Regions from separate parts of the Homo sapiens genome. Here region 2 is reported to be linked to region 1. Evidence: microRNA targets listed by miRTarBase, many of them from high-throughput screens and not tested one by one. Region 1 holds a microRNA gene; the other region holds the end of a gene's coding sequence.

The links. Region 1 holds the annotated microRNA hsa-miR-3925-3p (ACUCCAGUUUUAGUUCUCUUG, at 3,692-3,712, opposite strand). A microRNA usually pairs through its seed, bases 2 to 8, with sites in the 3' UTR of a target mRNA and lowers its output. Matches are read on the target gene's strand: a 7mer-m8 pairs with bases 2 to 8, a 7mer-A1 pairs with bases 2 to 7 and ends in A, and an 8mer does both.
Region 2: miRTarBase lists WSB1 as a target of hsa-miR-3925-3p. Seed matches in the 3' UTR shown: 8mer at 3,296-3,303.

What each region holds. Positions count from the first base shown.
Region 1 is chr6:36,618,755-36,626,732 of GRCh38, forward strand. It overlaps MIR3925 (microRNA 3925), which reads right to left and starts at 3,758; the gene lies at 3,682-3,758.
Region 2 is chr17:27,311,202-27,319,400 of GRCh38, forward strand. WSB1 (WD repeat and SOCS box containing 1) reads left to right here. Exons shown (of 9, transcript NM_015626.10): 8 at 308-415; 9 at 1,009-4,725. The coding sequence ends at 1,168. Among named protein-coding and RNA genes, the nearest start is that of LINC03146, 17 kb to the right of the region's middle.

The DNA.
Region 1 (7,978 bases):
CATAGGTGAAGCATCAGCAACTGTGCCTGGCACAGAGGAGGCCCTGAAAGTTGCCAAGCTCAGCGTTTTCCTTCACATCAGCTCTGCTCCACCCCCTTTAATTACTCACTTTTATAATAATTCAAAGGTAACCCATGACCATGGTAGAAAAATTAGCACATATAAGCAAAAAAAGGGAAAAAAGTGATTCAATAGCTTCTGGTTTTTCTAGCCTTTTTCTTTATTCTGGGTGCTTGGTATGGGAAGTTTCTTCATTTGTGTTTAGAGGGTTTTGTAGAGATGATATCATGGTCCCACTTTGCAAACGAGACAATTGAATTCCAGAAAGAGGAAGTGCCTTCCCCAAGGTCATGCAGATAAGGTTAAGCTGGGTTGAAACCCACAGCTTGAGTCCAAGCCCAGCACCAGAATATCAGGACCACAGAGGCATTGCACACAGGTGGGTCACAGATACCTGTCCCTGAAAAGCTCATGATACGGTATTTTCCTTGAAGGACTTAAACATTCCCCACTGAAAACATCCTGCTTTGTGACTTGCCCCATCCTGAAGTCCTGGGAGTGGACAGTTTGTGAATAAACCACCTGACTAGGTGAGGGCTGTCGGCTCCTGAGTTTTGCTCCCCCAGAGACACTGAGTATGCACCATCCGTGGGCTTGCCAGCATGAAAGTGCTATCATTGTGGGCTTTCCCTTCACATTTTTTTTTTTTTTTTTGAGACAAGGTCTTGCTCTGTCACCCAGGCTGGAGTGCAGTGGTGCGATCTTGGCTCACTGCAACCTCTGCCTCCTGAGTTCAAGTGATTCTCCTGCCTCAGCTTCCCAATAAGCTGAGATTACAGGTGCGTGCCACCATGCTCGGCTAATTTTTGTATTTTTATTAGAGACAGGGTTTGGCTATGTTGCTAAAGGCTGGTCTCGAACTCCTAGCCTCAAGTGATCTGCCCGCCTTGGCCTCCCAAAGTGCTGGGATTATAGGCATGAGCCCGGCCTCCCCTCACTTTAAAGGATGCTCCTTACCTGTTTTTGCTTTCTTCTGGTCTTTCCTGTGGCAACTGTTGTGGGGTTCCCAGCAAATATTTCAGTTTTTTCCTAAAAGAAGTAAGCGTGCACATTTCACTGGCTAAAGTACACTCTTGTGTTAAAATTCTGCATTGAAAATGGGTGAAGTCACCCTGGCAACATGGCAAAACTGCATTTTTACAAAAAATACAAAAATTAAGGCCAGGTGTGGTGGCTCACGTCTGTAATCCCAGCACTTTGGGAGGCCGAGGCAGGCAGATCACTTGAGGCCAGACATTCGAGACCAGCCTGGCCAACATGGCGAAACCCTGTCTCTGCTAAAAATACAAAAATTAGCCAGGCATGGCTGGGTGCGGTGGCTCATGCCTGTAATCCCAGCACTTTGGGAGGCTGAGGAGGACAGATCATGAGGTCAGGAGTTCAAGACCAGCCTGACCAATATGGTGAAACCCCGTCTCTACTAAAAATACAAAAATTAGCTGGGTGTGGTGGCACGCACCTGTCGTCCCAGCTACTTGGGAGGCTGAGGCAGGAGAATCGCTTGAACCCGGGAGGCAGAGGTTGCAGTGAGCCGAGATCACGCCAATGCGCTCCAGCCTGGGTGACAGAGCAAGACTCCATCTCAAAAAAAAAACCAAAAAAACAAAAAAGCTGCGTGGTGGTGCACGCTTGTAATCCCAGCCGCTTGGAAGGCTGAGGCACAAGAATCACTTGAGCCTGGAAGGTCAAGGCTGCAGTGAGCTGTGATGGCGCCACTGCACTCCAGCCTGAGTGAAGGGCAAGACCCTGTCTCAAACAAACAAACAAAAATCAAAGGATGAAGTCACGTAGATTTTGGGCAAATTGTTTTCCAAAATCTGTTAGCATAATTCTACAGAATGTCAAAAAGATAAAGACATCCACCAGTAAACCCTAATTGTTTGATGGTTGTAAGTAGTCACTTGAGATGTGACCGCAATAGGGGCCTGCCCATGGGGAAGGTGGCATACCCACCCATCTCCTGTGCCAACATGGCGTCCCTATCTCCTGGTAGCCCTGAGGCGAGGGTCAGGTGAAGGAAGTTGGGATCATCATTTACTCAGTTTGCCTATCTGTAGAAAGGGGGTATTTGGGCTGAAGGTGGCCTGTAACTCACAGGATGATCTGTCCCCTCTTCACACTGCACCCTGCAGTGAGGGGAGCAATGACTGAGTCAACCACTGCTTTAGGCAGCGGGGGTCCTTGATAAGGAGATAAGTTTGCCACACTGGGACTGATGGTCCTCAAGTTCTTTTCCAGCACCGATATTCTAAGATTCGGTGACTCCAGAAAAGCAATAAGGCCGTTGTGAGGAGGGCAGATCCAGAGGATGATCTTCCTGGAGGGGAGGGGAAAATGTTCAGTGCATACAGTGGGTAATGGTTCATCTGAGGTGGCATCAGACTGTACAACAAGCAGGGATTGTTCTGCAGGGTTCAGGCGACTGTTAGTATTTGATCAAGATTGGAATAGTCTCCTAAAACCTACTTGATCCTCACAGAAAAGTTCCTATCCCCATTGTGCAGATGTGGAAACTGAAGGTTAGAGATAGAAAGTTAGACCCTAGGGTGAGGCAATGGATGGCTAGGACTAGAACCCAAGGCAGGCTCCTAGGGCTCCTGCTTTTCCAGCACGCATCTACCATGCATATGTGCTACTACCAGGCCTGGCGCTAGGATTCACATCACTTTAGAGGCTGCTTGGTGAACATGGGCACCCACAAAAGCCCTGGAGAAGGCAGGTTCTTTCTCAGGAATGGCCAGTGGGTGTGAAGATCACAGTGTGGGAGAAAGATCAAGGAGGACTGAGGGCCACCCGACCAGGAATCATCTCCAGCAGCCTGTGGGTGACCGCTCGTCATCCAGATCAGCATCAGGAAGGTTCTGCACAACACCTCTAGGGAACACATGGGGATCGAGGTCCTGTGGCCGTCTTGGGGTCTGAAGATCTAGATTTAGCTTCTGGCAGTATCATGATGCAAACCTGGGCAAGTTGTTTTGTTCCCTGGACCTTGGTCTCTTCATCAGTGAAATGGAACTAATTATATTACCTCATAGGGCTATTATAAGGCCTAATAAAAAAAAAAAAGAAAGCATCCATAAACAATGTTTACTGAGCACTAGTAGTGCCAGGCACTCTTCACTTGTATTAACCCATTTGATCTTCACAAAAAATATTTTCTTTTTTGTTTGAGACGGAGTCTCCCTCTGTCGCCCAGGCTGGAGTGCAGTGGCGTGATTTTGGCTCACTGCAGCCTCCACCTCCCAGGTTCAAGTGATTCTCCTGCCTCCGCCTCCCGAGTAGCTGGGATTACAGGCGCCCGCCACCACACCCGGCTAATTTTTTGTATTTTTAGTAGAGACAGGGTCTCACCATGTTAGCTAGGATGGTCTCGATCTCCTGATTTCATGATCTGCCTGCCTCGGCCTCCCAAAGTGCTGGGATTACAGGCGTGAGCCACCGCACCTAGCCCACAACAAATTTTAGAGAGTAGGTACTATTGCTGTCCCCATTTTAGGAAACACAGAAGTTGGTTCCAGCCACAAGGAAGTGGCTTCATCCATCATCAAGAAGTTGATTCCAGCCCACGTGGATGGCTTTGAGGAGTTCAAGACTTTAGTGGAGGAAGTGATGAAAGATGTGGTGGAAATAGCAAGAGAACTAAAACTGGAGTCTGGAGATGTGACAGGCTCCACTTTCAGTTCTCTTGCTATTCCCACATGACCATGGTCCAGGATCCTGAGTTTATGTTCAGGAAATAAGACTCAGCGAAAACTTGCAGTCACTTTCATAATCATTAATGCAGAGATTCTCAATAAATTCTTAAGGCTCCACCACGCTCCAACATAAAGTAACACATTCAGTTTGTTACAGAAATGGTAATAAGGCAACACTATGCAATACTATGTGTACAATGCAGCACTTTGCAGTACCAAAATCCATGCCTACAAAGCACTGCACAAGAACACATACAAATAAAGGATATAGTAGAATGGCTGCCTGTGGGGTGGGGGCATGGAAATGACAATGGAGTGAGGGGGGAATACATGAAGCAAGAGGTGACTAGTCAGGACCAATGATGACAGCCAGCCATCACCTGGGGAATAGGAGGGACTCATCCCACTGCACCTGAGGACTAAAAATAAAATGGAATGGAAACAAGACCCTGGGTGAAATCACTCGGCCTGAAATACACTGGCCCTGGGCTCAAAGAGGAAAGGTGGGGACACATCCTGGGCTGCCTCATCAAACCAGGAGCCTGCAAGAGCATCCCTGTGTGTGTGTGGAGGGGGTGAGGACAAAGGGAGGGTCAACCACACCCAGTTCTGTGAGCTCAAACACCAGACTAAAGGCCACAGGCAGACCCTCCAAGGCCTCAGGGAAGGAGTGAAGAGAAAGGCCTGGGTGGTCAGTGTCAGAGGCGGCACAGTCACATGCTGTCATGCCTATTTCACCAAGGTTTAGCCAAATGCACTATTAGGGTGTCAAGAAAATATGGATATAGGGCAACAATCCTGTGATTGTATGATGACTGTAGGCTTGATCATCATAAGGGTCCTGCCATATGCTGGTCCAGTTGGCACACCCACCCATCTCCTGTGCCAGTGGAGTGTGCCTGTGAAACAGCAGTCAGCTCTTCTGGTGGCCCTGAGGATCGGGGTGAAGGAAGAGTGGATCTTCATTTAGTTAGTTTGCCCCTCTGCAGGAGGAGGGGAGTTGGATACAGACCTCTCCTAACAACCCGCCTGGCTACTGGAACCTTCCTGAGAAATGTGGTTAACCTCTGGGCGCAGAGCCAGCAGTTCTAGGCTCCCGTCACAAGGGGGCAGGATGGGGAAGAAAACAGGTTCTCAATTCCAGGCCTTGGACCTGTCAGGTTTGCTGGCAGGGGCAGGAAGGAGGGTGGGGTCGGGAGTGTGTGGTGGTTGATGAGGGATCCAACCATCGTTCCGCAAGAGCGGCTTGTTTATTAAACATGAAATGAGGGAAAAGCCTAGTAGCTCCATTGGATTGGGAAGAATGGCAAAGAGAGACAGGCGTCATTTTCTAGAAAGCAATCTTCACACCTGTTGGTCCTCACCCATTGAATGTCCTCACCCAATCTCCAACACAGAAATGAGTGACTGTGTGTGCACATGCGTGTGCATGTGTGAAAGTATGAGTGTGAATGTGTCTATATGGGAACATATATGTGATTGTATGTGTGTAACTATGTGTGACTGGCAGCGTGGGGAGTGCTGGTTGGAGTGTGGTGTGATGTGAGTATGCATGAGTGGCTGTGTGTATGACTGTGGCGGGAGGCGGAAGGGGAGAAGCAGCAGGCTCAGGTGTCGCCAGAGAGGCTGGGAGGAAACTATAAACCTGGGCAATTTCCTCCTCATCAGCGAGCCTTTCTTGGGCAATAGGGGCAGAGCTCAAAGTTCACAGAGATAGTGCCTGGGAGGCATGAGGCAAGGCGGAAGTACTGCGAGGAGGGGCAGAGGGTCTGACACTTGAGGGGTTCTAATGGGAAAGGAAAGACCCACACTGAATTCCACTTAGCCCCAGACCCTGGGCCCAGCGGTGCCGGCTTCCAACCATACCAACCATTTCCAAGTGTTGCCGGCAGAAGTTAACCTCTCTTAGCCTCAGTTTCCCCACCTGTAAAATGGCAGAAGTAACCAAGCTTACCTTCCCGGCAGTGTGTGAGGATGAAAAGAGCTATGTACGTGATGCACTTAGAAGAAGGTCTAGGGTGTGAGTGGTACTCGTCTGGTGGGTGTGGAGAAGACATTCTAGGCAATGAGGACTGGGGAGAGCCTGGCCCATGGCTTCCACTCAGCAAGGTCAGTCTCTTGTCCTCTGCACTCCCAGCCTTCCAGAGAGGACCTTCCCAACCAGCACTCCCCACGCTGCCAGTCACACATAGTTACACACATACAATCACATATATGTTCCCATATAGACACATTCACACTCATACCTTCACACATGCACACGCATGTGCACACACAGTCACTCATTTCTGTGTTGGAGATTGGGTGAGGACATTCAATGGGTGAGGACCAACAGGTGTGAAGATTGCTTTCTAGAAAATGACTCCTGTCTCTCTTTGCCATTCTTCCCAATCCGATGGAGCTACTAGGCTTTTCCCTCATTTCATGTTTAATAAACCTTCCCAATGGCGAAATGGGCTTTCTCAAGAAGTGGTGAGTGTCCCATCCCTGCGGTGGGGACAGGGGTGGCAGCGGACAAGCCTGCCTGGAGGGAACTGTCAGGCTGATTCCCAGTCCAACTCCAGCTTCCAACACCTCATCCTCCAGGCAGTCTTCATTCTTGGCTCTAATTTCGCTCTTGTTTTCTTTTTTATTTTTATCGAGAACTGGGTGGAGAGCTTTTGGTGTCATTGGGGATTGCTTTGAAACCCTTCTCTGCCTCACACTGGGAGCTGGCTTGAGTCAACTGGTCTCCATGGAATTTCTTTTTTTAGTGTGTAAACAGCTAAGTTTTAGGCAGCTGTTGTGCCGTCCAGGGTGGAAAGCAGCCTGTTGATGTGGAACTGCTTGGCTCAGATTTCTTGGGCAAACAGATGCCGTGTCTCTCAACTCACCAATTAAGAAGCCCAGAAAATGTGGCTTGGAGACCACATGTCTGGTTATGTCTAGTAATTCAGATGGCTTCACCTGGGAAGCCCTTTCTGAATGTCAAAGCCATGAGATAAAGGACATATATATAGTAGCTAGGGTGGTCCACTTCTTAGGGGCCATCTCCGGAGGTGGTGAGCACTAAGTGCCAGGAAGAGAGGAAACTCTGTTTTGGAGCCAAAGCATAAAAAAACCTTAGCCACAAACCACTGAACATTTGTTTTGTGCAGGTTCTGAGTCCAGGGAGGGCTTCTGAGGAGAGGGGCAGCTGGAGCTGGTAGGAGTTATGTGAGATGGAGCAAGGGCCCTTTAAGAGGTGGGAGCAGCATGAGCAAAGGCAGAGAGGTGGTAATGTATAAGGTATGTCATGGGAAAGAGTTTGGCTGGAACAGAGTTTACAGAATAGAAAAATTCAACACTATTAATTGAGCCTCTACTACGTGCTCGACATTGTTCTAGTCACTGAGATAGGTTTGGTATACAAAACAAAATCCATCCTCTATGGACATTTTAGTGACTAACAACAATATAAATAATAAAAGTGAACAAAAGCTCAAAACATGCCAGGCACTATTATTTATTTATTTATTTATTTATTTATTTATTTTTTGAAACAGAGTCTCGCTCTGTTGCCCAGGCTGGAGTGTAGTGGTGCGATCTCGGCTCACTGCAAGCTCCGCCTCCCGGGTTCACACCATTCTCCTGCCTCAGCTTCCCGAGCAGCTGGGATTACAGGTGTGCACCACCGTGCCTGGCTAATTTTTTTTGTATTTTTAGTAGAGACAGGGTTTCGCCATGTTAGCCAGGATGGTCTCGATCTCCTGACCTCGTGATCCACCTGCCTCGGCCTCCCAAAGTGCTGGGATTACCGGCGTGAGCCACCGCCCCCGGCTCCAGGCACTATTTTGAGTATATATTTATTCATTTAATCCTCAAAGCACCCGCATGAAGTAGTAGCATTGTTATTCCCATTTCATGGATGAGGAAGTAAAGGCATTGAATGGTGGAGGCAGAATTCAAACCCAGAGCCCATGTGGTGACCATGATGCTCCCCTACTCCACGAGAATAAGAAAGTAGCCAAAAGTCCAGTCAACCAGGGAACAAGGGCACGTCTGGAGAGTGGTGAATACTGGGCAGGGGGAGTGGGGAGCTGGTGGTTTTGGAAGATTAATCTGGAAATGTGTGGAGTTGATGGGAGGACAGGTAGCTGGAGGGATATGGGGCCTCACTCGGGAGGAGAAAAAGAGTGAAGACAGAGAAGAATCAGTATAGGGCTTGGAACATTTCTCAGGTCATATCTTAACAGGAATTAGTG
Region 2 (8,199 bases), not on the chromosome of region 1:
GTATTGTAAGTGTAGGAAAGTAAGGAGAAAGTTTCCGGGTGTGAACATTCTAGGTTTGAACACTGGGAAGGAGGGAAGGCAGCCATGCATTGTAGTCTCTTAAGTGAAAGTTTATCCAATTTACCAACTGATATTATAGACCTTAAAATATTTTGTAATTGTATAAAGCAAGTTATTATAATTGCCTGTTGGTGTGATGTGTGTATTTTGTGACTCATAACTCAATGGCATTTCTTTCTAAATTTTAAAAAAGTTGCTTTTACCTTACATTTTCTACAAGATACTAAATAATTTATTTCATTTTCAGAATGGTGAGGTTCTGGAGAATTGATGAGGATTATCCAGTGCAAGTTGCACCTTTGAGCAATGGTCTTTGCTGTGCCTTCTCTACTGATGGCAGTGTTTTAGCTGCTGGGTAAATATATTTTTCTCTTTTTTTTTTTTTTTTTTTTTTTTTTGAGATGTAGTCTCCCAGGCTGGAGTACAGTGGTGCAATCTCTGCTCACTGTAGCCTCCGTCTTCCAGTTCAAGGAGATTCTCCTGCCTCAGCCTCCCGAGTAGCTGGGACTACAGGTGCACACCACCAGTCCTGGCTAATTTATTTGTTTGTTCGTTTTTCCAGTAGGGTCGGGATTTCACCATGTTCGCCTGGCTGGTCTCAAACTCCTGACCCTGACCTCAAGTGATCTTCCCGCCTCAACTTCCCAAAGTGCTGGGATTACAGGCGTGAGCCACCACACCTGGCCCATTTTTCTCTTTTCTTTAAGGGCCAATTTAAGGGGGCTTTTAGCAGCTAGTAATTTATTGTCAGTAAAACTCTAATAAGTGTTCTTCATAGTAGTGTTACCTTGTCATGGAATACATCATTGGTTAGTTCTTCCTGGTTGGGTTTTAATGTGAAGTTTGTGACTCCACTACTCACATGTATTGGGTGATAGTTGTTTGAGCTGTAGCAACACTGAAATACATATACTTGGGTGACTAAGCATGTGCTTTGTTTCTGTTTAGGACACATGACGGAAGTGTGTATTTTTGGGCCACTCCACGGCAGGTCCCTAGCCTGCAACATTTATGTCGCATGTCAATCCGAAGAGTGATGCCCACCCAAGAAGTTCAGGAGCTGCCGATTCCTTCCAAGCTTTTGGAGTTTCTCTCGTATCGTATTTAGAAGATTCTGCCTTCCCTAGTAGTAGGGACTGACAGAATACACTTAACACAAACCTCAAGCTTTACTGACTTCAATTATCTGTTTTTAAAGACGTAGAAGATTTATTTAATTTGATATGTTCTTGTACTGCATTTTGATCAGTTGAGCTTTTAAAATATTATTTATAGACAATAGAAGTATTTCTGAACATATCAAATATAAATTTTTTTAAAGATCTAACTGTGAAAACATACATACCTGTACATATTTAGATATAAGCTGCTATATGTTGAATGGACCCTTTTGCTTTTCTGATTTTTAGTTCTGACATGTATATATTGCTTCAGTAGAGCCACAATATGTATCTTTGCTGTAAAGTGCAAGGAAATTTTAAATTCTGGGACACTGAGTTAGATGGTAAATACTGACTTACGAAAGTTGAATTGGGTGAGGCGGGCAAATCACCTGAGGTCAGCAGTTTGAGACTAGCCTGGCAAACATGATGAAACCCTGTCTCTACTAAAAATACAAAAAAAAAAAAAATTAGCCAGGCGTGGTGGTGCACACCTGTAGTCCTAGCTACTTGGGAGGCTGAGGCAGGAGAATTGCTTGAACCCAGGAGGTGGAGGTTGCAGTAAGCCAAGATCACACCACTGCACTCCAACCTGGACAACAGAGCGAGACTCCATCTCAAAAAAAAAAAAAAATTGTGTTGCCTCATACGAAATGTATTTGGTTTTGTTGGAGAGTGTCAGACTGATCTGGAAGTGAAACACAGTTTATGTACAGGGAAAAGGATTTTATTATCCTTAGGAATGTCATCCAAGACGTAGAGCTTGAATGTGACGTTATTTAAAAACAACAACAAAGAAGGCAGAGCCAGGATATAACTAGAAAAAGGATGTCTTTTTTTTTTTTTTTACTCCCCCTCTAAACACTGCTGCTGCCTTAATTTTAGAAAGCAGCTTACTAGTTTACCCTTGTGGTATAAAGTATTATAAATTGTTGTGAATTTGAAGAATCCGTCTACTGTATTATTGCTAAATATTTTGTTTATACTAAGGGACAATTATTTTAAGACCATGGATTTAAAAAAAAAAAAAAAAACTCTGTTTCTGCAGGGGATGATATTGGTGAGTTGCCAAAGAAGCAATACAGCATATCTGCTTTTGCCTTCTGTTGTTTATCTTACCTGCAGATATTAAGAATGTATGCATTATGTAAAATGCTCAATTATATATTTTTGTTGAGTTTTTTAATTAAAGACTTGTAAAAAAAAAAAACAGTATATTGCAAATGTTTCTTAAATAGGTTAGGTGGAGTACTTTCTCTCTGTCTCCATTGTAAGGTTGATGGTACACCACAGGCAAATTAAGCAAAAAGGACAATGAAGAAAGAATGCAGGACTCAGGCGCTGCTCTAGAATTCATTCAGGGCTCCCCGAGTGCAGCAGCTCTTATGGTGGTTTTGTTTTTAGGAGAACTGTTGTAATAATGCATATTTTAAAAGCATAGGGAAGCTCTAGAACACAGGAAGGTGACTACTAAGCAAGAGAAAAGTATCTTTTAGTGGGGAACTACCAGCCTATAGTAAGTCTATCTGGTTAAAGTAGTTATTATGAAAATCTAGCAGTCTGGGTCCTTTGAGAAGGCATTAAAAAAGCAAAACTCTTATGAGCCATGTGTGATTTTGAAGACTCATTTCCACTGAGAAATTATTTGGAAGTTCCTATGGTTAGCTCTGTTAAGGAATGTAAAAATTTATAGGGGGTGTAGGGTTATCAATTTGAAAGCCAGTAGAAAATCTGCTCAAGTTACTTCTTGAGGATCATCTGTATTTTACAAAAAGAAGCACAAGAAGCATCTAATCTTTATACTTCTTGTGACTTTTTTTCCCCTGCATTTTACTTTGTAATATATCGGCTTTATAATTTTAAAATACACTGGCCGGGCGCAGTGGCCCACACCTATAATCCCAGCACTTTGGGAGGCCAAGGCAGGTGGGTCACTTAAGGCCGGGAGTTCATGACAAGCCTGACCAACATAGTGAAACCCCTGTCTCTACTAAAATTACAAAAATTAGCTGGGCATGGTGGTGGGTTCCTGTACTCCTAGCTACTTAGGAGGCTGAGGCAAGAGAATTGCTTGAACTGGAGAAATGGAGGTTGCAGTGAGCTGAGATCACGCAACTGCACTCCAGCCTGGGTGACAGAGTAAGACTCTAAATAAATAAGATACCATTACTTTTCATATCATTGCATTATTTTTGCTTTCCACACCAACATATCCAGTCAAGTAAAAACAGCTTTTTTTATTTTTTATTTTTTATTTTTTTTGAGACGGAGTCTCACACTGTCACCTGGGCTGGAGTGCAGTGGTGCGATCTTGGCTCACTGCAGCCTCCACCTCCTGGGTTCAAGCAATTCTCCTGCCTCAGCCTCCCAAGCAGCTGGGATTACAGGCGCTCCCCCACCACGCCCAGCTAATTTTTGTTGTATTTTTAGGACAGACGGCGTTTCACTGTTGGCCAGACTGGTCTCAAACTCCTGACCTCGTGATCCGCCCGCCTCGGCCTCCCAGAGTGCTGGGATTATAGGTGTGAGCCACCGAACCTGGCCCAAAACAGCATTTTTGGAAGCTACATTCTGTGAGATGTTCACCTGTTTGCCACCTCTTCTCGTGAAAACCATAGTGAGTGCCAGTGTGAAAGGAAGATTGCAGCGTATATGTCAAGTAGAAACATGTTTGAATTTTCCATTTGTCTGTGGGGAAGAAGGTAATAACAGTAATAACAGACTGAAGGACCAAAGGAAAATAGGGAAGACGTTGATTATGGACTTGGATCAGATTCTAGCTACATGATTTGAAAATGACACTGCCTCTCCTATTTTGCCACAAGCCTGTCATTTGGAGAACTGGCAGATCATTTATGTTCAGATTTAATTTTCTGTTTTAGAATCCCATGGAGTACATGTGAACATAGGAAAATCACACTCAGCAGCCAAGCTATCCTTTTGCGATAATGAAATCACTTTAAAACCTATAACTTGATCTTAGGTTGGCAAATCTTAAACTTAACGATCCTTGAAATTTCCTGCCTGCTGTGACTGTGATGCAGTTGGATTCAACTGGTTTACACTGCTCTTGGGTCGGCAAGACCAAAAAAGGTTGGACTGCACTGTAGCATGCTTATGGGTTGAGGCAGTGGCAGAGGCAGAGGACTTGGCCGTCAGCCAGCCAGCACAGGCGTAAGAAAATAGCATGAGAAGTTTCACGAGCCTGAAACCATTGAGACAGTGATTACAACCTCCATATTAATCAGATGAGGGTTTGTAGGTGACATAGCATTTTACCCAAGTAATTCTGAACAGACTGTGGCTTATGATAATACATTTTAACTAGCAAGTGTGTGGACTATAAAACAAATATCTAGAGTTATATATGGATGTACTATCATTTGGTGATAAAAGCATAGAAAAAGCATAAGTTGGAGTATACTGGGTTTTTTTGTTGTTGTTAAATTCTTTTCCATCAGAAGTAAGAGCTGTTGGCAGCAACTAATAAAATGCAACCTAGTGACATGCTCGTCATAACCTTGGCAGATGTTTATGGTAAGATGCTTGGAAGGAATGAACGTAAGTAGGCAATCTCAACCTGCCCTTTGATCCATAAAGCATTCTTTAGCCACCAGCAAAAATCTGGTCTGAGCCAGGTATAAAGTGACCTGTTTTATTACAGGTGGGTGGGGTAGCTTTGTGTGGTTGTTTTTTGACATTATGTATGCTTTTATTTTTTACTTTGAGGTAGGATCTCGCTCTGTCACCCAAGCTGGAGTGCAGTGGTGCAATCTCAGCTCACTGCATACTCTGCCTCCCCTGGTTCAAGTGGTTCTCGTGCATAAGCCACCTGAGTAGCTGGGATTACAGGCGTGAGCTGGGCCAATTTTTGTATTTTTAGTAGAGATAGGGTTTCATCATGTTGGCCAGGCTCGTCTTGAACTCCTGGCCTCAAGTGATCTGCCCATCTTGGCCTCCCAAAGTGCTGGGATTACGGGCATGAGCCACAGTGCCTGACCAGTCTAGGCTTATCTTAACAGTTGAGGAATCAGAAAATGATTGAATAGGGCTGGAATTGGAGAAGGAAAAAATGATTTAATTCAATTTTTATCAACTCCAGCACTATTTTCTCTATTAGAGACTACTGTCATTATCCTTCTGGTTTCTGTTTTAAAGATACTGATTAAGGAATTTTCTTTATAGTTCCACATAACAGTTGGTCTTCTGGTCTGAAAGTAGTATTACAGGTTTTGTTAGGAAAACCTATAATACAGTGTTGCCTGTCACCGTCATTATAGTGAGTTTGTGTTTGTTTGGTTTTAAATAAGGCTGAAGCATCAATGGCTCTTTCTGAAAAAATTGTTCTCCAAAAGTAAAGTGTGAGCTATAGAAATCATCTAGAACAGGGGTGTCCAATCTTTTGGCTTCCTTGGGCTACATTGGAAGAATTGTCTTGGGCCACACATAAAATACACTAACTGATGAGCTTAAAAAAGAATTACAAAAACAATCTCATAATGTTATTAAGAAGGTTTACGAATTTGTGTTGGGCCACGTTCAAAGCCATCCTGGGCCACATGTGGCCCGTGGGCTACACGTTGGACAAACTTGCTCGAGTATAGATCAGTAAGTAAGAGAAATGAAATGGCTACTCCACTGGGTCGTTTTATGCTTCCGAATTGTTGAATAATAATGAAATGTTCTTATAAAAAATAGATTAAGGATGATGGGCATTAGAGAGATACCTGAGAAAGATAATGATTAAAATAGATCCAAGAGGCCAGGTGCAGTGGCCCTCGCCTGTAATCCCAGCACTTTGGGAGGCCAAGGCAGGCAGATCACCTGAGGTCAGGAGTTCGAGACCAGCCGGCTAACATGGTGAAACCCCGTTTCTACTAAAAATACAAAAAATTAACCCAGCATGGTGGCATGCGTCTGTAATCCCAGCTACTCAGGAGGCTGAGGCAGGACAATCGCCTGAACCCGGGAGGCGGAGGTTGCGGTGAGCCAAGATTGCACCATTGTACTCCAGCCTGGGCAACAAGAGTGAAACTCCATCTCAAAAAAAAAAAGCCAAGAATGAGGCTGATATTAAACAGAAATATATATATATATGTATATATATATATTTTTTGACACGGAGACTCGCTCTGTTGCCCAGACTGGAATGCAGTGGTGCAGGCTCAGCGCACCACAACCTCCGCCTCCCGGGTTCAAGAGATTCTCCTGTCTCAGCCTCCTGAGTAGCAGGGATTACAGGCCGTGCCACCACACCTGGGTTATTTATTTATTTATTTTGAGACGGAGTCTCTCCCTGTCACCAGGCTGGAGTGCAGTGGCACATTCTCGGCTCACTGCAACCTCTGCCTCCTGGGTTCAAGCGATTCTCCTGCCTCAGCCTCCCAAGTAGCTGGGACTACAGGTGCCTGCCACCATGCCCAGCTAATTTTTGTATTTTTAGCAGAGGTGGGGTTTCACCATGGTGGCCAGGATGGTCTCGATCTCTTGACCTCGTGATCTGCCTGCGTCGGCCTCCCAAAGTGCTGGGATTACAGGCGTGAGCCACCACGCCCGGCTGTATTTTTTTTTTTTTTAGTAGAGACAGGGTTCTGCCATGTTGGCCAGGCTGGTCTGGAATTCCTGACCTCAGGTGATCCACCCACCTCAGCCTCCCAAAGTGCTGGGATTACAGGCATGAGCCATCACGCCCTGCCTTAAATGGAAATCTTAAAAGACATACATTTGCACCAAGTGAGCTAAATATTTTGGCACCAAACTCACACAAAATGGCCGGGCACAGGGGCTCACACCTGTAATCCCAGCACTTTGGGAGACTCTGGTGGGCAGATCACTTGAGGTCAGGAGCTGGAGACCAGCCTGGCCAACATGGTGAAACCCCATCTCTACTAAAAATACTCCCCAAAAATTACCTGGGCGTGGTGGCTCATGCCTGTAAGTCCCAGCTACTCAGGAGGCTGAGGCAGGAGAATAGCTTGAACCTGGGAGGCAAAGTTGGCATTGATCCAAGATGGCGCCACTGCACTCCAGCCTGCATGACAGAACCAGACTCTGTGTCAAAAACAAACTCACACAAAATGGGAAACCCAGTAAGTTGTATGATTCACAATATTAATCTCACAGTAATGGCTGAGGAAAAGCACAGTTAATATTATGGACCGAATGTTGTATGCACACCCCACGACCACCACCACCACCACCAGTAATACGTTGAAATCCTAATCCTCAATGTAATGATATTAGGGAGTGGGGCCTTTGGGAGGTGATTAGGTCATGAGGGCGGAGTCCTCATAATGGGATTCGTGCCCGTGTGAAAGGAACCCTAGAAAGCTCTCATTCCCTCTCCACCATGTGAAGATACAATGAGAAGACAACAGTCTAACCGAGAAGAGGACCTGCACCCTGATCTCAAACTTCCAACATCCAGAACTGTGAGAAGTTAACTTCTGTTGTTTATAACCCATCTAGTCTATGGTACTTTCTTCTAGCAGCCCAAATGGACTAAGGCATAGGAACAGCAGGAATGCCTCCTTGAAACTTCTTTATTTTTTCAAGATGGTCTCGCCCTGTGACCCAGGTTGGGGTGCAGTGGCATGATCACGGCTCACTGCAGCCTCCATCTCCTGAGCTCAATCGATTCTCCTGTCTCAGCCTCCTGAGTAGCTGGGACTATAGTTATGCACCATCACACCCAGCTAATTTTTGTATTTTTTATAGAGACAAGGTCTTGCTGCCTAGGCTGGTCTCCATCTCCCAGACTGTAGCAGTCCTCCCGCCTTGGCCTCCCAAAGTGCTGGGATTACAGGTGTTAGCCCCCCACACCTGGCCAAAACTTCTTAATTAGATATAAACTGTGCTAGAGCACAGACAGTGATTTCTGTGTACTCCCCAACCATCTTGCCACCTCTAAGACCCCTAACATGATTTGGCAGAAATTACACAGGCTTCAAGTTCTCCCTTGGATGATAACAGTTGAGCT